Linked DNA regions of Homo sapiens: all the other regions are linked to region 4. The links come from fine-mapping of genetic effects on gene expression. A gene starts in region 4. Each other region holds a variant in brackets. All regions are shown on one strand. Distances are from middle to middle. Region 1 overlaps SPATS2L (spermatogenesis associated serine rich 2 like). Region 2 holds the start of LOC101927741 (a long non-coding RNA gene). Region 3 overlaps SPATS2L (spermatogenesis associated serine rich 2 like). Region 4 holds the start of SPATS2L (spermatogenesis associated serine rich 2 like).

The links. PIP is the estimated chance that this variant, and not a neighbour inherited with it, causes the effect.
Region 1: its variant is fine-mapped to the expression of SPATS2L in whole blood (INTERVAL, PIP above 0.99).
Region 2: its variant is fine-mapped to the expression of SPATS2L in whole blood (TOPMed, PIP above 0.99).
Region 3: its variant is fine-mapped to the expression of SPATS2L in lymphoblastoid cells (TwinsUK, PIP 0.95).

Annotation. Positions count from the first base shown.
Region 1 is chr2:200,329,885-200,335,612 of GRCh38, forward strand. All of the region lies in intron 2 of SPATS2L (spermatogenesis associated serine rich 2 like), which reads left to right. Among named protein-coding and RNA genes, the nearest start is that of SPATS2L, 26 kb to the left of the region's middle. The variant C/CTGTGTG (reference allele first, on the strand shown) is at 2,888.
Region 2 is chr2:200,473,037-200,478,764 of GRCh38, forward strand. SPATS2L (spermatogenesis associated serine rich 2 like) reads left to right here. Exons shown (of 13, transcript NM_001100423.2): 12 at 1-16; 13 at 4,600-5,728. The coding sequence ends at 4,995. LOC101927741 (a long non-coding RNA gene) reads right to left here and starts at 4,937. Exons shown (of 7, transcript XR_007088047.1): 1 at 4,509-4,937; 2 at 3,067-3,206. RefSeq lists an enhancer at 62-211. The variant G/T (reference allele first, on the strand shown) is at 2,714.
Region 3 is chr2:200,449,086-200,454,813 of GRCh38, forward strand. The region is part of intron 8 of SPATS2L (spermatogenesis associated serine rich 2 like); the gene reads left to right. LOC101927741 (a long non-coding RNA gene) reads right to left here. Exons shown (of 7, transcript XR_007088047.1): 3 at 291-383. Among named protein-coding and RNA genes, the nearest start is that of KCTD18, 58 kb to the right of the region's middle. The variant C/CT (reference allele first, on the strand shown) is at 2,747.
Region 4 is chr2:200,303,701-200,309,428 of GRCh38, forward strand. SPATS2L (spermatogenesis associated serine rich 2 like) reads left to right here and starts at 2,993. Exons shown (of 13, transcript NM_001100423.2): 1 at 2,993-3,222. RefSeq lists an enhancer at 2,368-2,467 and silencers at 2,878-3,607, 3,628-3,957.

The DNA of each region.
Region 1 (5,728 bases), 26 kb after region 4:
CACAGTGATAGCCACTTTTGCTCTCACTGTCCTTCTTATTGAAGAATGTGCTCCCACGATTGCAGAAGTCTGACTTGGAATTGACAGTGCTCAGTCAGCATTGAGTGGGAGTAGGACACAGACTCCTGAGCCAGACAGCCTGGCTCTGCATCCTGCCTCTGCTGCCTAATAATCGTGCAGTCTTCGCATGTCACTTACTTTTCTGAGCCTTGGTTTCCTCTTCTTTAAGATGGGGTAATTATACCCATCTTGCAGAATTGTCAAGATGTTTTCAAGCTCATGTATGCAAGGCAAACTTACACAAAATTGATATTCAATAAAACAGTAACCAAAGATCATCCTTGGTCCAGACCCTGTTAAATAATCATAAATTCCAAATTGAGGTAGTCCAAATTAATGAAGTCTTATTGCCTCCTGGATATTTCCATTAATGTTTAATATAAACTTGATTCTTTTTCCATAAATGTAAAACTTTTGTGGTAAGATGATTGTAACTTTTTGAAAAGAGCCATAAATATTGGTGGGAGTTGGTTGTTTTCCATGAATAGAATCGAATATTTTACTTCCTCATATTTGAATCACAATGAAAGCACTTTCAGTTGTTCAAAGAGAATTAATATAGAAACAACTGTTGATTTTCTGTCTTTCTGTCTCCATACACATGTCTGCATGCACAGGCGCACACACTGCTTAGTTTTCCTTTGGTTAGGCAGCTGAAGAGTTACTATGTAGATCCTGGCAGCCTTCTACCCATCAGACAAGCAAGGGCACAATCAATTCCTGTTTTCTTGAAACGTATACCAAATAATCAGAAACTCTGATTATTCTGCTGGAAGGCAACAGCTTGATGGAAAGATGTACCAATTGAAAACAATTCTGATCATATTTTTGTCAGGAGAATGAGATGCCTCCAGCTGCCTGTCACTAATCATATTAGAGGTGGAAAGCAGGAATGTTTTACCCTGCAAAAGATTACTCTAATCATGTGTTGGAACGCTACTTGTACTGGCTGCTTATCCCAGAACGGTGACATTAGACATCCCTTCTGTAACTGGTCTTGCCAGTTGGTAGTAGTCTAAACCATATGCCACATGAGCACACTTTAGGAATTTTCTAATTACAGCTCAAAGGCTTTACTTTTATCTTTTTATGCTTGTACTGCAGACATCAGTGATTGAAAATGATTTCCCCCTCAGCATAATCCTATTGCCAGCAGTTATGAAAGACTAGGAAGATGGTAAATGAAGCCCACAATAACTGAAGAGGTGTCCGAATTCAATTATGAAGAGGCCTGTCCCATGTGGACACATAAGCCATATAAATCCATTTTAATTGTGAGCTGTGATGCTTATCTGATTATGTTTATTTTCGATGCAAGTGCCAAAGCTGGATTTAGACCAGAATTCCAGATCTTCAAGTTCTAATGACTAATTTGGGTATCCACTGAATCCCTTAATTCATTTCTTAATTTGTTCTCCCAGAATTAGAGAGTTGCTTGGTTACAGTCATTTTCACAAATTTCTCATGGATCAAAATAAATGTACATAGATGTTTTTCCCCCTAGGATTCACACATTTTGCTCTGATCTCAAGGAACTATTCTTGTTGTTATCAAAATAACAATAACAGTGCCAACAATAACAACAAAACTAACATTCTGCAAGGTAGTGTAGGGAATATAGACCGAGGCTCCAGGAGGAATGATTTTGAGTCGCACCTCAGCTACTTAACAGCAGTGGGACCTTGGTCAAGTTAGTCCCCCTCTCTGTGCCTCAATTTCTTCTTGTAAAATGGGACAAATGAGAGTATTCACCTCATTGGGTTGTTTTGATGATGATTAAACAAGCCCATATATGGAAAGTATAGGTAGGTTGATATGTGGAAAGTCCTGGCACAATAAAAAATGTTAGTTATTTTGTTGTTATTGGTAAGACAGTGGTCGACCAGAGGCAGATTTTGCTCGTACCACAGTATTGTCATCTAAGTATGTCCCATTTCTACGGTCCACTTGGAGAACATTTATGATGGTAATGAAAACACTGGAGACTCTGAATTTGGAATCAATCTCTGTTATTTGTGCTTGTACTCCTTAGTTTGGCTACAGAAATAACATTTTTTGGCTTTCCAGGCTTGATCAGTATTGAACTTGGAACCCTTTTGGTGCAAAATTGCTTTAAAATTTGAATGAACATTTTGTTCTCTTGGTATGCACAATATTAGCCCTCATTAAGAGGAAAAATTTTATTACAATATGTAAAATGTGTGTGTGTGAGAGAGAGAGAGGGAGAGGGAGAGGGAGAGACAGAGAGGAAAGAGAGAGATTTGGAAGAATCAGCTTTAGTAAGTTTACTGGAAATCTTCAAGCTTTTTTTTTTTAGAGAGACAGGGTCTCACTCTGTCACCTGGGTTGGAGTGCAGTGGCGCCAACACAGCTCACTAAAAGTTCAACCTCCTGGGCTAACACAGTTCTCTTGCCTAAGCCTCTGGTGTAGCTGGGACCACAGGTGCATGCCACCACAACTGGCTATTTTTTTTATTTTTTATAGAGATAGGGGGTCTCACTTTGTTACCCAGGCTGGTCTCAAACTGCTGGGCTTAAGCGATCCTCCCACCTTGGTCTCCCACAGTGGTGGGATTACAGGTGTGAGCCACCATGCCTGGCCCAAACTATTTTTTAATACAGTAAAATGCATTTATTATCATGGCTTAGATTTAGTGAATGTGTAGGAGTGAAAGTCTACTGAGAGAATAAATCTAGTAATTTAATGAACTTTCTTCATAGCTTCATAAGAGTTAGTTAATTATGATTTCTTAATTCATTGCCCAAAGAATGAATTACTGGAATTCATTATATTTTTTTTTTGAAAAAAAAAAACTAAGTTAGCTGC[C/CTGTGTG]TGTGTGTGTGTGTGTGTGTGTGTATGTATGTATCTATGTATTCTAGAGAAATATATATTATATGCATCCAGAGATGTGTAAAATATTCTCTATCAGTAGGAGAATAGATTAATAAATTGTGGTGTAATCATATGCTAGAATACTATACAGCAGTAAAAAAATGAACTAGAGCTGTACACAATAACATGGATATATCCCACAGACATGATGTTGAAAGACAGATATGGCCTGGGTTTGTTAGCTCATGCCTGTAATACCAGCCCTTTGGGAGGCCAAGGCTGGGGGGTTGTTTGAGCCCAGGAGTTCAAGACCAGCCTGGGCAACATGGTGAATCTCTTTTCTACAAATACAAAAAAAAAACACCTTAGCTGGGTGTGGTGGTGTGTGCCTGTAGTCCCAGCTGTTTGGGAGGCTGAGGTGGGAGGATCAGTTGAGCCCAGGAAGGAAAGACTGCAGTGAGCCAAGATCACACTACTGCACTCCAGCCTGGGTGACAGGACAAGACCCTGTCTCAAAAAAAAAGAGAGAGAGAGAAAGAAAAGACACAAGATTACATAGCAGTCTTTTTTTTTTTTTAGGTTTTTATTATTGTCTTTATTTTATTGAGACATGATATTTTATATATTTATGGGTTACATATGAGTGTTTGTTACATGTGTAGAATATGTAGTGATCAAGTTGGGAGTTTGGGGTACAAGGGTTTTTTAAAATTTTTTTTATTTTTTATTTTATTTTATTTTTTATTTTACTTTAAGTTTTAGGGTACATGTGCACAACGTGCAGGTTTGTTACATATGTATACATGTGCCATGTTGGTGTGCTGCACCCATTAACTCGTCATTTAACATTAGGTATATCTCCTAATGCTATCCCTCCCCGCTCCCCCCACCCCATGATGGGCCCCAGTGTGTGATGTTCCCCTTCCTGTGTCCAAGTGTTCTCATTGTTCAATTCCCACCTATGAGTGAGAACATGTAGTGTTTGGTTTTTTGTTCTTGCGATAGTTTGCTGAGAATGATGGATTCCAGCTTCATCCATGTCCCTACAAAGGACATGAACTCATCATTTTTTATGGCTGCATAGTATTCCATGGTGTATATGTGCCACATTTTCTTAATCCAGTCTATCATTGTTGGACATTTGGGTTGGTTCCAAGTCTTTGCTATTGTGAATAGTGCCGCAATAAACATACATGTGCATGTGTCTTTATAGCAGCATGATTTATAATCCTTTGGGTATACACCCAGTGATGGGATGGCTGGGTCAAGTGGTATTTCTGGTTCTAGATCCCTGAGGAATCGCCACACTGTCTTCCACAATGGTTGAACTAGTTTATAGTCCCACCAACAGTGTAAAAGTGTTCCTATTTCTCCACATCCTCTCCAGCACCTGTTGTTTCCTGACTTTTTAATGATCGCCATTCTAACTGGTGTGAGATGGTATCTCATTATGGTTTTGATTTGCATTTCTCTGATGGCCAGTGATGATGAGCATTTTTTCATGATGATGAGCATTTTGGCTACATAAATGTCTTCTTTTGAGAAGTGTCTGTTCATATCCTTCACCCACTTTTTGATGGGGTTGTTTGTTTTTTTCTTGTAAATTTGTTTGAGTTCTTTGTAGATTCTGGATATTAGCCCTTTGTCAGATGAGTAGGTTGCGAAAATTTTCTCCCATTCTGTAGGTTGCCTGTTCACTCTGATGGTAGTTTCTTTTGCTGTGCAGAAGAAGCTCTTTAGTTTAATTAGATCCCATTTGTCAATTTTGGCTTTTGTTGCCATTGCTTTTGGTGTTTTAGACATGAAGTCCTTGCCCATGCCTATGTCCTGAATGGTATTGCCTAGGTTTTCTTCTAGGGTTTTTATGGTTTTAGGTCTAACATTTAAGTCTTTAATCCATCTTGAATTGATTTTTGTATAAGGTGTAAGGAAGGGATCCAGTTTCAGCTTTCTACATATGGCTAGCCAGTTTTCCCAGCACCATTTATTAAATAGGGAATCCTTTCCCCATTTCTTGTTTTTGTCAGGTTTGTCAACGATCAGATAGTTGTAGATATGTGGCATTATTTCTGAGGGCTCTGTTCTGTTCCATTGATCTATATATCTGTTTTGGTACCAGTACCATGCTGTTTTGGTTACTGTAGCCTTGTAGTATAGTTTGAAGTTAGATAGCGTGATGCCTCCAGCTTTGTTCTTTTGGCTTAGGATTGACTTGGCGATGCAGGCTCTTTTTTGTTTTCATGTGAACTTTAAAGTAGTTTTTTCCAATTCTGTGAAGAAAGTCATTGGTAGCTTGATGGGGATGGCATTGAATCTATAAATTACCTTGGGCAGTATGGCCATTTTCACGATATTGATTCTTCCTACCCATGAGCATAGCAGTCTTATTAAAAAACAGACAAAACTAAACTTTGTTGCTAAGGTGTGTATATTCAAGTGGCTGAAACAATAAAGAAAAGCAAGGAACTTATTACTGAAAGAATCGGATACCAAGACAGTGCTTACCTGAGGCGGGAGAATGGTGTGAACCCGGGAGGCAGAGCTTGCAGTGAGCCGAGATTGCGCCACTACACTCTGGCCTGGGCGACAGAGCAAAGATTCTGTCTCAAAAAAAAAAGAAAGAAAAAAAAAAGAAGATAGTGCTTGCCTCTAAGACAGGAAAGAGAAAGGACCTGGAGGGCTTCCAAGGGTGCTGGCAATATTGTGTGCTTTGACGGGGCTGGTAGTGACGTGGGCAAAATAAATGAATTTTTAAATTTACTTTCCTGTTAATGAGTTATAGTAATAATTTAAAAAGTTAAAAAGATAAAGTAACTATCTCTTTGGCCTGGCTTAGTTCAC
Region 2 (5,728 bases), 170 kb after region 4:
GCCGGCCAACAAGCAGGTAAGCCGACACTGGTGCAGGGTGCCAGAGGAAAAAAAAAAAAAAACCTGTTTCCAGAGGAAGAAAACAGCAACTACTAGATTCTGGGCCTCCTGGGGTCACACTCAGGCTCCCGCCACCTGCCCTCACCCACTCCCCACCCAGCAGCACTGCCCAGCTGGCCTCTTGGGAACTCCCCTGGTCGCTCTCATCCATGCCTGCCAGGTGCTTTCCCATGTGGAGGAAGTGGCCTGCATGCACTCTTGACCACGTGAGCAGAGTCCACCCCAGTGACACAGTTCTTCTCATGGCTAGGACTGCCACCATCCCTGGGGCCCCGAAACCAGCCCACACGTGGAAGGGACCCACAGAGACTCTGGAACAAGACTCGGAACCTACTAAACTACTAATGAGAGGAAATCTGGCATTTGTTTTTTAAGATATTTTAATCCCCATTTATGTTTAGCTGATCAATAAGAGGCTAAAGTTAGTGCAGTCTTCTCTTCTCTTGGGATTTCAGTAAGGAGAATACATTTCAAAATGGCATTCTTCATTCTTATCTATTATGATGTCTAAAGACACAAGTGTCCAAAGAACCATCTTCCTTCTCTCCTTCTGCTTCTCCACTATATCTTTTGGAGGTGATTTCCCCCTTATCCTTAGAGAATTAACAAAAAATTGGGATCTGCCGGATGCAATGGCTCACTCCTATAATCCCAGCACTTTGGGAGGCCAAGGTGGGCAGATCACTTGAGGTCAGGAGTTTGAGACCAGCCTGACCAACATGGTGAAACCCTGTCTCTACTAAAAACACAAAATTTAGCCAGGCATGGTGGCGGGTGCCTGTAATCCCAGTTACTCGGGAGGCTGAGGCAGGAGAATTGCTTGAACCCGGGAGGCGGAGGTTTCAGTGAGCCAAGATCGCACCACTGCCCTTCAGCCTGGGCAACAGAGTGAGACTCCATCTCAAAAAAAAATAAAAATAAAAATAAAGGATCTGATGATATAGAAGTTGGGCATGCTATAAAGATACCTAAGATACCTTTTATCATCTCCAAGAAAAAGTCTTTTCTTTTTTTTTTTTGTAAGACTTTAAAAATGGTGGTTTTCTAACAGGTGTCTTGTTGGGTTTTGCTGTCTCAGCCTTTGAGAATTCTTATTAATGATATTGACAGGTGTTTTCTCAGGCCCTGAAGTCTTCATGAGCTTTAAGATAGCACTTTGACAAGGAGCATGTTATAATCTCATTAGTTAAAGATCATAATCAAATCTGTTTTTACTTGTAGTCTAAATATATCTTCACAGTTTTTGTTCTTTTTTTTTTCTTTTTTTTGGCACAATCTCGGCCCACTGCAGCCTCAACCTCCTGGGCTCAAACAATCCACCAGGCTCAGCCTGCAGGGTAGCTGGGACTACAGGCACGTGCCACCACGCCTGACTAAATTTTTTTGTATAATTTTTGTAGAGATGGGGTTTTGTCATGTTGCTGTCAAATTCCTGGGCTCAAGCGATCCACCTGCTTCAGCCTCCCAAAGTGCTGAGATTACAGGCATGAGCCACCATGCCTGGCCTCTCTGTTCATTATTAAATACCATGCTGATAATTAAGTCTAAAATTTAGTCTAAGAGTTTCCCTTTTTCATAATTTCTTTAAAAACAAAGGAGGCCAGATTAAGTACTATCTATGTAGATACTTCTTCAGTTCTCTGGTTTAGCAGTTTAGGTAATGGCTCATTTAAGTTGAAATCCACTCAAATATCTAAGTCAGAACACTGTAGACCCAGGCAAGAATGGCCCTTGGACCGGGCCCTGTGTTTTCAAGTAACTTCTTGACCCTCCCGCAGCCATGGCCCTCTCTACAGAGTAAGGAATCAGAGAGACCAAGGAGACAGGGCCACTGGAATCTACACTCTTTGTTCTGAAGCATGCTGCCAGTCAGTACTCGAGATCCTGGGTTACTCTTCCCAAGTGGGCCCAAGCCTGCTCACAGGATCTGCCTGGACCACTTTCCTGTATACATCATCTTGAAGATGAACAACACTGCCAGTTTTCACACCCATCCGCTGGAAGGGTGGGAGTGGAGGCGATGCTTAGGTGTGCAGGCTGGAATGTCCACATTTGTGTGTGCAAGGCCCCTTACAATGTGGGATGGAGCCAGAGATAGGAAAAGACAGTATTCAGACATATGGTGTGTGAACCCCAAAAATCTGAGACAGGTCTCAGATAACTTAGAAAGTTTATTTTGCCAAGGTTGAGGACGTGCACCCGTGACACAGCCTCAGAAGGTCTGATGACATGTGCCCAAGGTGGTGGGGCACAGCTTGGTTTTGTACATTTTAGGGAGACATGAGACATCAATCCATTTGTGTAAGGTGAATATCAGTTCAGTCCAGAAAGGTGGGACTACTGGAGGCAAAGGCGGACAACTGGGAGCGAGGAGGGGGCTTCCAGGTCTTAGGCAGATAAAAGACAGATGGTTGTATTCTTTTGAGTTTCTGATTAGCCTCTCCAAATGAGACAGTCAGATATGCATTTATCTCAGTGAGCAGAGGGGTGACTTTGAATAGAATGGGAGCCAGGTTTGCCCTAAGCAGTTCCCAGCTTGACTTTTCCCTTCAGCTTAGTGATTTGGGGGCCCCAAGATTTATTTTCCTTTAACAGATGTATGGACCTACATTTGTACTCTTGCTCTAGGCTCTGAATTATTGGGGGTTGGTCT[G/T]CCCTAAACCTATACCATCCAGTCACAGTGCACAAATGAAGAACCTTATATATTTGTAACTCATAAAATTTCATGTTTTCTTAAGAGGTTTGATTTTCAAAAAAGGTTTATGTTTATGTTACAACTTAAGAGTCTTGTCAGGAGATAGTATATAAAGCGGGAATAGCTCCACCATTTCCCAACTGTAGATAGACCTTGGGCAAGTCCCTGAAACTCCTTATCCTCATCTATAAAACGAAGCACATAATAGCAACTAACTTAAAGGGTGATTCTGATGTTAAATGAGGTAGTGCATGGTGAGAAACCCCATTCAGTGCATGGTAAGCACTCAATGAGTGTTGGCTATTACTGACCTTGAGGAGTTCAGAAATCTTTCCCTTGTAAAGGAGCTTAATCCATTGCGTCCTTACTGCTCATCCATTTACGTTCCTGGTCAGTGATGTGTTGAAGGAATGATTTTTTAATAGAGGCTTCAAATTTTCTTTGCTTATAACTGCAGAAAGTTTAGAAAAACAATGAATTACCTCTGTGAAAATACACCTTATTTCTGCATGCCACCAAGACCTGCCAGATACACTTCACCCCTATATTTGTCCAAGATAATATTTCTGAACTATAAAGATATTTGTTTTGGAATAAATTAGAAAAGCTACTTTAGAGAAGAAAAGTTACAGAATTTTACTTTTTCTTCACTTACGTAATTAGAATTCCTATGCATGGTTTTGAACAGGAAATTTTCCTTGACCCCTTCACAGGCCTTGCAACAGGGGTGCCTCACTTTCTCAGCCTGAAGCTCTGAACCCCTCGGGGGAGGGAGAGCATGCAGGTGAGCAGGTGCAGGAGCTAGAGCAAGCACTTTTGGCCACCGGCAGGATCAAAACTCCATGCAGTCCCACAGCAGTGCCTAGGGTAGTACCCATGACCCCTGGAGCCCCAGAGGGCATGCGTTACAATGCTCTTTTAGCTTTGCAGTCCAAGGACGGCTTAAGTATTTAACAGCTCAATAGACCTTCTACTTTTTCATGAAGGCAGAGGGTCAATGTGACACTTTTCTGTATCCTGAGCTCTTGTCCAGCATCCATGAAAAATCAGGTCATATGAACAAATTGAAGGATAGTAAACGCGGGGGATTTTATTGCCATTGAAAGTGGCTCTCAGCAGGAGGGAGAGAGCTGGAAAATGGGGATGGAGTGGGAACGTATTCTTCCCCTGAAGTACTGCCATCAAGCAGTCCCGCTAAAGTCAAGCTGCTGCTCTCCGACTCAGACTGCAGTCTCCGACGTGCAGCTGCTTCTCCTCTTCTCTGCTCTGTGCCAGTGGAGCCTGGGATTTTTATGGGTACAGGATACGGGGTGGGGTAGGCCAGGGGTGGTTTTGGAAAAGGCAATATTTGAGCAGGAAAACAGGAATGTAAAGTTCTCACTTTGGGCTTGAGAGTGGGTCTTGGCCAGGGACCCTGCCCTTTTTCTGTGTACAATTTCTGTGCCTCCTGTCCCTCTCAGTCTCTACAGAATGTCTCAGAAATCTCCATAGTAGAGGATCATCATTACTCTGCCCCTGGCTTCTGTTTTATTCTGCTATAGTTTAAGCATCTTTATGAATTTTATTTGACCCAGTTTTTGAATTGTCTGTCTTACACTTCTGTAACCTCTCTTTCAATATCATTTTCTTCCAGTTCCATTTACAAAACAGTCCACTATTCTTTTAGGATTAATAATTTTATCTGCCTGACCTCATCTTCATGTTTTCTGATTCTTCTGGTGTATAAAAAAAAAAAAAAAAAAAAAAAGCTTACCTGTGGCTTAGAGATTTGGTTTTCCTGATGTCTACTGGTGTCATCAGTGGCTTGCTGGCATCTGATACTTATCTCTTTTCTTTTTTGGTAGAATGGATCTTCTAACCAAAGACGGAGATTTAATCCACAGTATCATAACAACAGGCTAAATGGGCCTGCCAAGTCGCAGGGCAGTGGGAATGAAGCCGAGCCACTGGGAAAGGGCAACAGCCGCCACGAACACAGAAGACAGCCGCACAACGGCTTCCGGCCCAAAAACAAAGGCGGTGCCAAAAATCAAGAGGCTTCCTTGGGGATGAAGACCCCCGAGGCCCCGGCCCATTCTGAAAAGCCCCGGCGAAGGCAGCACGCTGCAGACACCTCGGAGGCCAGGCCCTTCCGGGGTAGTGTCGGTAGGGTTTCACAGTGCAATCTCTGCCCCACGAGAATAGAAGTTTCCACAGATGCAGCAGTTCTCTCAGTCCCGGCTGTGACGTTGGTGGCCTGAGCTAGGAGGAAAAAGAGCAGTTTTCACTCAGTTTTGGTTCCCTGCCCGAGGTGCTGACCCAATTCGCTGCCAAAAGAGTGTCAATCAGAATATACAAATCCCGTATGGTTGTGTCATCCTCTCTTAATCATTTTTACTAATTCTAATAATCAGCTCTAGCTTGCTTCATAATTTTCATGGCTTTGCTTGATCTGTTGATGCTTTCTCTCATCAAGACTTTGCAGCATTTTAGCCAGGCAGTATTTACTCATTATTAGGAAAATCAAGATGTGGCTGAAGATCAGAGGCTCAGTTAGCAACCTGTGTTGTAGCAGTGATGTCAGTCCATTGATTGTCTTTAGAGAGTTAATGTTACAAAAAAGAATTCTTAATAATCAGACAAACATGATCTGCTGAGGACACATGCGCTTTTGTAGAATTTAACATCTGGTGTTTTTCTGAAAAAATATATATACATATATTGCTTTATTTGAAACAAATTAAAATATGCTGCATTTGACACCTGGCTAGTTTCTTTTATTGATACCCACCTAGTTATTGAATGTACTGTTTAGTGCTTTCAAAAAAAACTTTAGAGACTAGAGGTTGTGGTGCAAAGCTGTGTACAATAAATACTGTTTCTGTTGAGACAAGTACTCTTTCAGGAAAATATATATATGCCCTTTCAATTAGATTACACAAATAGATGGATATGCACCCTGATCATCTTAGACACACCATGTGGCAGTTGGGC
Region 3 (5,728 bases), 150 kb after region 4:
AATCTTGCCTCATTTGTGAATATGTGTCTTTCTAAATAGGTGTAGCTCACTCTTTGGAGGTGAAAGCTTCTCTTTTCCTATTTTCTTTCTTCCCTGAGGTTTTCCTCTGCAATAGATGTTTCCCCAGGGCCTTTGCAAGGACTGAATGAATCAGTTGACATGAAGGAAGAGCAGGTTGATAAATACAAAAAGTACTGAACTGGCCTTTTCAGTTTAGGTATAGTCCCCAGGAAACCAGCATAAATAGCACCTCTTATTAATAGCCTTCCTGAGCTACACGTGTGGATTACCTCCATACGTTATGTCAGTCACACACTTGGCACTGGCAGTCAGCTCCGCTGGCACTGCAGCCTTCTTTGCAGAATAAAGGCCCACAATAAGAGCTGGAAGACAAGAAATTGGTTCTAATTTCAGCCTGAAATCGGAAAAGATTTCTGAATCTTCTCAGCAGATGAAAGCTTACCAATCAACCAGCCCGGGAATGTACTTCTGAAAAGGAATTGTTTTCATCATAAAATAGAAAAATAAAGAGGAAATAAGCAAATTGTTCTATCTACACATTCCCATAGGATACTAGAGTATGGTCTTTTAAAAAATATATATGCAATATAGTCTATTTTCACTAGAAAAAAGAAGATGAATTTGTTCTTATATCTTAGTATAAATATAAAATACATTATAATACTAAAAAGTGAGTCCTAAATTACAATTTCAGAATGCATCTTGGAGCTTATTTCTGTTTTTTTGGACTGGTACAGTGAGACTAAGGAGTTATTTTGGGCAGTTTGTCAGCTAAGTCAGCAACAAATCATATAGAAAGGCTGTACGTGAAGCCAATAAAATAGAACTCCTTATATGTATACTACATGCTGCTTCTAGTGACTCTAAACTCTTGATTCTTACCAGGCCATATTCTAATGAAAGACGCATTTTCCAAGGTTTATTAACCACTTAATTAGGAGGCACGGGATGTGGAGTTAGATAGATTAAGGTTTAAATCTCATCTCTACATATTCTAGCTCTGAACCTGGTTGAGTTTTTTAACTCCTTCTCAGCTACAAAGCAGGAATACTGTTATCACTTTCTAGGGGTTTTGTGAAAATTCATATATAAGTAATGTATCTGTCACATCATTCTAGAAAATCACTAGCCTGGCCCATAAGAGATGTTCAGTTAAGGTTGATTCTCTTCCAGAGTAGCATTTGGGAAATTTCTTTTCCTCTACACCAAGACACTGGCAATAAGTTATCCCTTCCAACTTTCTGTTTATTTAGCATGCAGTGGAGTCCAGCTATGGGATAGGAATGGTTCATCACCACTTCTACTTTTTATTACTTGATGAAGAGAGAAGTAAGGCAAAGGGACACCCACTTCTGAATGTCACAGTTGCCACCAAAACAGCTCCCCTTCCCCTTTCTTGTCTTGCCATGCCTTCGCTACCTCTCTCTTCCCCTTTCTTCATTCATCCACTTAATAGATAGATGAATGTGTGTCAAGCCACTACTTTTCAAACATTTGAGTGCACGAGGAGCATCAGGGCCCCATTTCCAGATATTCTGATTCTGTGGATGTTAGGTGGCACCCAAGAATCTTCCACTCAGTGAGTCTAGTGAGTACAAATGTAGGTGGTCTGCAGACCACACTTGAAGGAGCACTTCTAGAAAGACTGAGGGATAAAGACAGTCTTCCTCCTAAAAAAGCCCATGCACTAGTGGCTGCAGATGTAAACAAGCTGGAATGGAGCTGGGGGGAGGAAAAATCAACTCTACCTGGCTCATTAGGAAAGGTTCCATTGCAGAGGTGACCTTTGAGCAGGATCTTGAAGGAAGACTAGAAATTTGCCAGATGGAGAAGGAAGAAAGAAGATTCCATGCAGAAGAAGCAACACAAAGAACCAGAGGCAAGAAAGAACATATGTGCTCAGGGAGAAGTACCCTTCTTCCATCAATAATGATGGGCACGGTGGCTCACACCTGTTATTCCAGCACTTTGGGAGGCCAAGGTAGGAGGATTGCTTGAGGCCAGGAGTTCAAGACCAACCTGGACAACATGGAAAAACCCTGTCTCTACCAAAAAAATATAAAAATTAGCTGGGTATGGTGGTGTAGATCTCCAGTCCCAGCTACTCTGGAGGCTGAGGTGGAAGGATCGCCTGAGCCCAGGAGGCGGAGTTTGCAGGGAGCCAACATCACACCCACACCGCTGCACCCCAACCTGGGCAACAGAGCCAGACCCTGTCTCAAAAAGAAAGTTAATATAACTAATGATGATGGTCTCACTCCATCAATAAATGAATTTTAAGCACATCCCTCTCAAATCAGAAAGTTCATTTATAAATTATACATGTGTACTACTGTTAATCTGTATACTAAAGATGAGGAAAGCCTACTTAGAATAACAAGTGAGTACATAAAATTTAATATTGTATTCCTGCTCCATTTTGGAAGCCTGGACTAGGGTACGGCCTTACCATGGGCAATAACAACACCTGTGATTGTGGGGAAGAGCCTTCTAGGCCAAAAACAAGAAGAGCCCCTCCCCTCCCCTTTTCACATGAGAGCCTGCCTGGAGGCCAGGAGCAGAGGAGGCTAGGCCTGGCTGCCTTGGGTTGAATGTGGGCCAGCATTTCTGGCACTTCTTGTACTATATCAGTTTCTTCCAGTTTCTGTTCCTGTTATTTATGTTCAGCAACCATGATGGCATCTACATAAATGCCCTTCCCCTTGCCCCCACCGTTTTCTTTTTT[C/CT]TTTTCTTTTTTTGGAAGGAAATACAACAGTGATCAGAGTGATTGGCTCTATTTTGTGCTTGAGACAAAGGGGCATTTTGCTTTATTTTGTTTTATTTTGAAATTTGTTTCATTTTATCCTGCTTTCTAATATTTTCCAGTTTTTTAGTAGAGATGGGGTTTCACCATGTTGGCCAGGCTGGTCTTGAACTCCTGACCTGAGGTGATCTGCCTGCCTCGCCCTCCCAAAGTGCTGGGATTATAGGCATGAGCCACCACGCCCGGCAGATGTAACTTTAAAAGGGGAAGCGGGGGAGTCAGCATTTTTATAGTCAAAGACACTGAAATACAGTCAAGTTACTTTCCCTGAATAGTGACCTCCATGAAAAGAAACTGAACTAATAAGTAATTAGCAAAGATAAAAATTTCTATTGTTCATCAAAGTCATATGTACAATTTCTAAACAGAGGAATATAGATTTTTCAGTTGAACATTTAATGTTGTGGGATTTCCATACTATGGGATTATGCTATTCTGTCATTTAAAAAATTCCAATAAGAAAAAGAAATCCCTGTATATTTTTTAATTAATTATGTCCTTTTTGAAGAACTCCAAAATATTACTAATGTTGAGAGTTAGTCCTTATACTAAATCTGTGTGTCTCATCCCAGAAATGCACCTCAGACAGTATGATGAACAATTTATTAACCATGATTTCAAATCATTGTATGATTCCAACATAAAATATGCAGACTAAACAATATTAACACATTGTATTGCCTCTCATAAAAGTAGTAGAAATAAAATGTCAGCCTGATTGGCAATTGAGTGTAGTCATTGATGTTCATTGACAGTCAGATGGATTTTGACTTTGCTTTGTATGTTGAGTGTGGTTCATGCTTGAGGCACCCCCACTCTATTTCCCGGATGAGCGTGATTAGTAGGCAGCCTTTCAAAGGGTTATGTGCTAACCCCAGTCTACATGCTGTGGACATGTATGCAGGGTTTTATATGTTTACCAAATAACACTGTTAAACCCAATAAATCTTTAGAAGGACCAATTTGTCACCAGTGCTGCATTTAAAAAAAAAAAAATCTATTATTATTTTTCAGTTTTGAAAAGAATTCAGGTTGTTATAAAACCTAAATGCAAATATATACAGAGTGGAAGGTGACAGACCCGGGAATTCCAGCAGTGTAACAATAAACAACAACAAATAGCCAAGGACTGGGTAATGTGCTCAGGGTTAAATAAGAGTCAGTGGAAGTGGAGAGGTGCATGGGACAGACAGACATTTCTGGGGTAGACTTCCAAGGATGTAACCATGTGGGAAGTGAAGGAAGAGGAGCCATGGACACTGGGTGAGAGATGACACCAGTAACCAGCATAGAGGGTGCAGGAGAGAGGACAGGATGGGGAGCAGAACAGCAAGGAAGAGCCGGGAATTGGCAGTGTGCAAGAACGTGAGTGCCCTTTACAGTTAGGGCTGCCAGGCCTCCTGACCCTGGGAATAAAGAACCGTACGGTCTTTCTGCATTTGTGGCTGTCAAGCCAGGGAAGCATCTTTGTTGACAGCTGCAACAAAGAAATTGAGAAATTGCAATTGAGAAATTGGTGAGCTGAAACCCCTGACTAGCTTTGCCCTGGGCCCAATAATTGCTGGTAATACTTGGGGAGTTGGACCAGAAATGGTACTCATGGGAACAGTACATTAGGCCTTAAATGTATAAAGGAAGTTTTCCTGCCTTGCAACTAGTGGGCAAAATTTAAGGGAAGGGACACAGATGCTCAGTGCTAGCTAGTACGGGGCAACTGTAGCTTGCCAGCTCAAGGCCCACGTGGTGGTCAGTGGGCACTACTAGGCTATCAGCCCAGCTGACATCCCTCTCAGGGGATGTTAGAACCGTTGGTCACAGTTCTTATTCCTTTGCATTAAGAAGCGGCAGAGCCCACAGTGGAGGGAGATGTTTTTATACCACTCTTTTCTTTTTAGTGAAAGAAATGGAAATTCTTTATGCAGGGAAGCCTGGCTGTAGGGCTTATCAGTCTTTGGCATGCTTTATGCTATTTGGTAGAGGCCAGGAAGGCTGAAATATTCATTAGCATTCATAGCATCCTTTCTCTCCAGCAGTTCCCACCTTCTCTTTCTACTGCATGCGCCTCCTGCTGGGCCTGCCTCCCTCCCCATGCTCCCATTCTGCAATTGTTGGCTTGGCGAATGATGAGTTAAGCTCCAGCTGAAGTACTTTCCCCACAAGAAGGTTCTGCAGCAAAATTGTCTGGGATCAGATGGTCCCCGGCAATTCCTCTCACTCTAGTCTCCCTGAGGCAAATGCATGGAAGATGGAATGTGGCCTGGTTTTAAATCTTTAACATCTAACTCTGGCTGTTGTTACAGATTGAGTTCTTCACCTCCCCTTTGAAATTCTGCTTTCATTCCTCGGTATCTACCAGCAGGTTCTGCTCTCCAGCTTATCAACTACATTGATGGTCCTGTGGCTGCCTCTCTATGGTGGCATCTTTGTATTTGAAGAACACTAGGCCTGACATGACTCACCCAAGCTTCCAAATGAATCAATTTTGTCACTCAATGCCTCCATCTCCAAATTTAAAGAGCCTTTCACAGGGGAGAAAATGATAAATCTATTACTACTAACGAGGCTTTCTGATTCTTTTCATTATTGTTATTATCAGTGCTCTATAGAAAGGAATCAAGACAGTGGAAACATTTTTATAAAATGACACTTTATCTCTGTGATTAACTATATAATAAACTGTAAAGTCTTTGCCATGGTAATCTCCTCCTTACACCTTATTGCTTTGATAATAAAAGCTTTTTTATGGCAACAAAATAAAATTTTACTATCCAGGCAGTTTGGCTAAAATGAGAAGATGTGTTTTTAGAAGGAGAAAGGGCACATCTGAAACATGTGAGGTCCGCGTGGATTTTACGGGAACTCTGTTTATGTAGAACACGTTTGACGTGCCTGGTGCCCTCCAGA
Region 4 (5,728 bases):
GCACAGATTAAAAATACCTACACGTAAATGTTAAAAAATATAAACGAACATACTTTGTTCATCCCTCAGAAAACATCTGCTCTTATGGTTCTTGTTTTGTTTGCTTAAGAAAAGATCTTCACATTTCTATTTAGTTTAGAAAATAGTAAAATGCAATTCAATCTCTGAATTGTAATCACAGAGAATCATTTTGAACAATACTGTCAAACTAGCATTACACAGATCAAGATTTCAAACAATGTAATTTTTCAAATAAACTTTGACCATCTGGTGAAAACATCAACATATATCTTATTCATATTTTGTTTCTTCAGACTTTTCTATCTCCCTATAATAATAGGAATATAATGCATATTTTAAAAATCATTTATGCCTAATTCAGAAAAATAATGCTTTGTTAGTTATATGATGTGCAAGAAGCTTTTACATGTTTCAATAAGCATATTAAATCCTCTCTAACAGAAACAGAAGTTTTCATTATTTCCAGAAGAAATTAATTTGAACAGCAAAAGGTTCAAGTTTGATTTGAAATTCACTGTCTCTAAAACTTTTAAAACTCTGATTTTTTTGGGGGGGTGCTGGGCCCCTTAGCTAACTCTTGAAATATACAATTGTTTTCTTCGAAGTTATTCTATACTTGTCTTTTCACGCGCTAGGCCTCCACTCACAGTAGAGAATTAGTTTTAGCCTAGTCTGTGGTACAGTGGCTACTCCTACCTGCCTAGTCTCTATTTTTTCATTGATTCACTGCTTTAACATCTTTGCTCTCAACACATACAGCATTTATTCTTATAGCTCCTACCTACAGTACTTACTAAAAGAAGCAGCCTTCGATTAGAAAGGCGGTATATGGTCTTCTTAAAACCCTTTCTTCCCTCTGGTCATATTCTGTTCTTGAAGGCATTTTTTTCTGTCGGACTTCACTAAGCAAGTTAGATTTGGAGTCATGGGAAGATTATGAAGTGGTGGAAGAAAAGAATGAAGACTGAGTTCAATGTTATTTCCAAAGCCCTTCCTAGGAAAAGTGTTGTTTATTATTCATTTTGGAATTCTAATTATGGAGGAAACCTCCCAAAAACATAAATAAATTATTTAGCCAGAGGACCTAAGAAGTGCATCAAATTTCAAGTCAAATGGCTACAAGTTACTTATTACACCTAAATTTAATAAGCAATAGGATGTTTGTTCTTTATGTGTGGTATGGCTTCTAGAAGCAAGCTTTCCTCTCTGTAGCACAGGCAGGGTCCAACGGTCTAGGTTCAAATTCTTCCTTTACCACTTACTAGCTAAAAACTTAGGCAACTTATTTCACCTCTCTGTGCCTCAGTTTCTTTCTTTCTTTTCTTTTAAAGGCTCTGGCTCTGTTGCCCACACTAGAGCGCAGGGGTGTGATCCTGGCTCACTGCAACCTTAGCCTACCTGGTTCAGGTAATCCTCCCACCTCAGCCTCCTGAGTAGCTGGGACTACAGGCGTGCACCACCATGCCCGGCCAATTATTATTATTAGTTTTTTTGTTTTGGAGGGATGGAGTTTCACTATGTTGCCCAGGCTGGTCTTGATCTCCAGGGCTCAAGAGATTTGCCCACCTCGGTCTCCGAAAGTGTTGGGATTACAGGTGTGAGCCACTGGGCCCAGCCCTCAGTTTATCTGTAAAACAGGACAAAAGTAGTACCTACCTGATGGGGTTCTTCCAAGGATTAAATGAGCTAGTACTTATAAAGCACTTGCTAATGTCTGTTAAATAAATTATATTATCCACACACCAATCCAAGGCGACTATAAGGTAGCAAGAACCACTCCAAGTCACATAAGAAAATGAATTCCTTTCGTTTTAGCTCCTCTCTTTATTTCAGCAGTGCGTTGTCAACAGGGCCACATTATGTTAGCAGATTTGAACTTTATCCGAAAGGTGTTTGTATTTTATTTCAAATTATGAATTCCTGAACATCGGATTATGTACGATTCTGCAGTGCCCTCGGAGGCCCATTAGAGTCTGGAGCTCGAGAAGCATAACAAACTCTGGTCTGATATTTGTAAGGAGCTTGACAGCCAAGGAGCCACTCAGAAACAGTTATTGGTATTGCCAAAAAAAAAAAAAAAAAAGGAAGCTAAGAAGTCACCCTTCTAAATAAATAAATAAATAAATAAATAAATAAAAACCTGAATTGGAGAGCTGCCTGCATTTCACTCTACTGCCTCTGGAAGAAGAGTGTTATCTAAAGTGCTTCCATCATGAATAATGATTGAGAAACTGCTTTTACTCTCCCGACTACTGTACTCCCAGGCAGAAACCCACGGCTGAAGCCCACGATGCCCATGTGTAACTTGGTTATTACACACACGTTTGGAGCCCAGTGTGCAGACCCGCAGCGCAGAGGAGGCGGCGGAACACCCCGGGTTGGTCGGGTTTCCAAGGGCTGACCCGAGCTCCAGCACTTTTTCCGCGCCTGATTTTTCAGGTCATTTTCGAATGGGCTATCTTTGCTTACATTTTGAGCTTGGATCCTCTCCAGAAAGCATTACTACCTTCTAAAAGGAAAAACATCTCGTATTTGCAGACAGTGCTGAGGGAGCAAAGTTCATTTTCTCGGGTAGGAGAAGATGATTCTCTTGCAACACGTGCGGATTGTGACAAAATCTTTCATTAACAAGGGGAGTTTCGGTGAAGTGGAGGTTTGGGGAAAGGCGAGGAAGTCGGTCTGGAGCAAGCAAGCAAAGTGCGGAAGCTGTACTGGGATTCTTCTAGAAAGTGGGGTGGGAAAGGAGCTAGGGAGGGCGTGTGGAGGGACGAGATCTGTGTCAGAACGTGCGTGTGAGCGGATACAAAACCCGAGAGAGGCGTGAGCAGCGCTGTGTTTGCGAGCGGGAGCGAGGGGCGCCGGCTGGGGTGTGTGCTCCTGGTGAGTGACACCGAGGGGAAGGCGGGCGGGTCGGCGGGCGGGGGCAGCCTGCGAGGGGCGGGAGTGTCCCTGCGTGGGGCGGCCGAGCCGGAGTTGTGTCAGTGAAGGAATCCAGTCCGGGGGCCGAGCTGGCTGCGCCCTCCGCTGCAAGCGCCGGCAGCGCGGGGCGAGCTCCGGACGGCGCGCGGCCCAGGCAGCGGCTCCCGCTCGGCCCGCCCTCCGAGCCGCAGGGGCCGCCACCGCCGCGGCGCCTCCCCTGGCGACCGCGCCCCCGGGCCCCGGCTCCGGCCCGGGACGGAGGAGCCGGCGCTCGACACAGAGGTAAGCCCAGGACCCCCTCCACGCCGGGCCGGCTGGGGATGCAGGGCGCGGGCGGACGCGGAGGGGCCTGCGCGGCCGGGACGGAGACTCGGCTGGGCCGAGCATTCCGCAGCCCGGGCCGCCCAGCCTCCGCCGCCTCCCGGAGCGCTGGGTGTGGCCCGCGCTCGGCGCCGAGGCGGGCTGGTGGCGCGGACCGGACGCGAAGGTCGCCGTCCTTCCTTTCTCCAGCCGGCGCGGGCAAGCGGGAGGAGGCGCCGGCTGGGACGCACAGTGGCGCTCCCCGGGCGAGCGTGTGGCCGCCGCGCTCCGACGTGTACCCGCCCGCCCCGGATCTGAATCGCCCGCGGCCGCCGTCCCTCGCCTGCCGTCCTCCCGCGCGGGCGCCCCCGTTCCCTCCCAAGCCGGAAAGAGACCCACCGTCCCCCAGGCTGCTCTCTGGCCCGGAGCCGCAAAGCCCACGTCAGCCGCGACCACCCCGCCCTCGGATCCCAGCCGGGTGCGGGGGCCGCGGCCCCACTGAACCCCGCGCCCCTGGCGCCCAGCGGGAGTGGGATGCGTTGGCGTCCGCGCTGCGCGGGTGGGCTGGGGTGGCCGGAGCAGACGCGGAGCGCCCTGGCCGCGGGACGAAGCGGTCGCGCCGCCGCATTTGGGCGGGGGGACCCCGGAGTCCGCGGGCTGCGGACCCCAGCGGGAGACGGGGTTGTCGTAGGATGCGCTCGCGCTGGACGCCGGCGCACTCTGAATATCATGCTGCCGCACACGCGGGGCTGAAGGGCCGAGTCTTCACCTGCGCGGGGATGCGGCGGAAGCGTCGCGTCTTCGCGAGTGGAGGTTTCGTGTTCCCGCGGGGTTGGTGTGTTTTTGAACTTCACGAGCTTCTCATCCCCCCCGCAATCCTGGTTTTAGCAGATGTCGGGGTTTTGGAGACCTGACACTTTTCGTGAAAGATTCTTTCTGTACGTTTTCTTTTGGCTATATTACAGGGTTTGTAGCTTGAGAACTAGTGAAAACCCTTGAACTTCAAACACAGTCTCATTGCTTATTTTTTGAAATTTAAATATTAAAATATGTACCAGCCCCCTCACAAGCCGACAGACTTTAAGACAAACGACTGTGAAATTTTAGAACCTGTGCAGAGAAAGTGGTTTTATACCAGTACTTGAAATAGTAAGGTCGTGTAACCTTTTTAACATCGTTTTAGTTTGTCTTAAAGGAAGGTTTCAGCACCACTTTGACTGGTACTGTTTTCCAGAGTTTAAGCAGATGTATGTAATATAGCAGGGAAGAGGACAGGAAGTCAGAAATCTCTTCACTCTGAAAAAAAAAAAAGACTTCAAATAATACAACCAATACCCTGAAAATAGAGTGGCCGTCTGGATAAAGTATTTGATAGGCCTTATGAAATTGTGTTGCTTAACCAGAAAGCAATGTGTTGTTAGATAGGGCAGTTTTATCTAGTAACTGTCGTGTTTAAAAATATCTGTGTATGATATTCTTTGTTGAATTTTAACTGGGGAAAAATCAACTTTGGGAATGGGTTTCTATTTGGACAAGGCAAATACTGCAGTTTCTAATTAGAGTTTTGGAATAAGCTCAAGCTGTGTTAAAACCTATTGTATGGAGCAGCAGAACAGAAAACATGTCAAATCTGTATCTGTGTGGCAGAAAACATGTCAAATTCTGTATCTGTGTGGCTTTAAATACACACACACACACACACAGACACACAAACTAGAGACTAGCCCCAAAAGATAATTTGCATAAAAATACAATCACTTGAATGCAGAGAATAGCTAAAGACGTTAGTAAAAACTGAACATCTGGGAAAAGACTGTATTAATTGGCAATTTTCTTTCTTTAATCCCTGAAAATATTAAATGATTTTCTAAGAATCAACTTAGTTTAATGTGCTCATTTAGACAGGCAAAATGATCAAGACTCCTTTTGTATTCATTTTGTTTTAGGGAGCCCCCTAATGAAAGTCTTCAGTAAATAGTTTTTCTGCATGCACTGATTTTCCTGAGGCCATTGTGGAGAGAGTTATCTGTGGGCTTGAGAAGCTGCTCTGCCACACCAGTAAGGATCAGGGAAAGAAAATACTTAGGCCACACCGTTGCAGTCTTTGATTGCATGCCAGTCTGAAGCATTTTATGGACCCGTTTTGCCATGTAAGTGGTAAGCTTTTACATCAGAAGTTAAGCTTTAGAAATATCTCACTTTGGGGCCTAATTTTTGTGAGTTTCTCAGTCTGCGATCAGAGTTGTGTTATCAATCACAGTGAATGTTCGTGAATGGTTGTGTGTTGAAAGGGCATAGGTGGTCTTCATTCTATTACTTTACACAGTTTTAATCAGCATTTTCTGAGGTGAGCCAGGACAAGAACTTCTGGTTACAGTTTGGATAGGATGGAAAAAGTTGTGGTTGCTCTTCGTAAGATCTAAGCTGCTACTACCTGTCCCACTGTATGACAAGAGTGGAATGCATTTTATGTGCACTTGACAGGTAC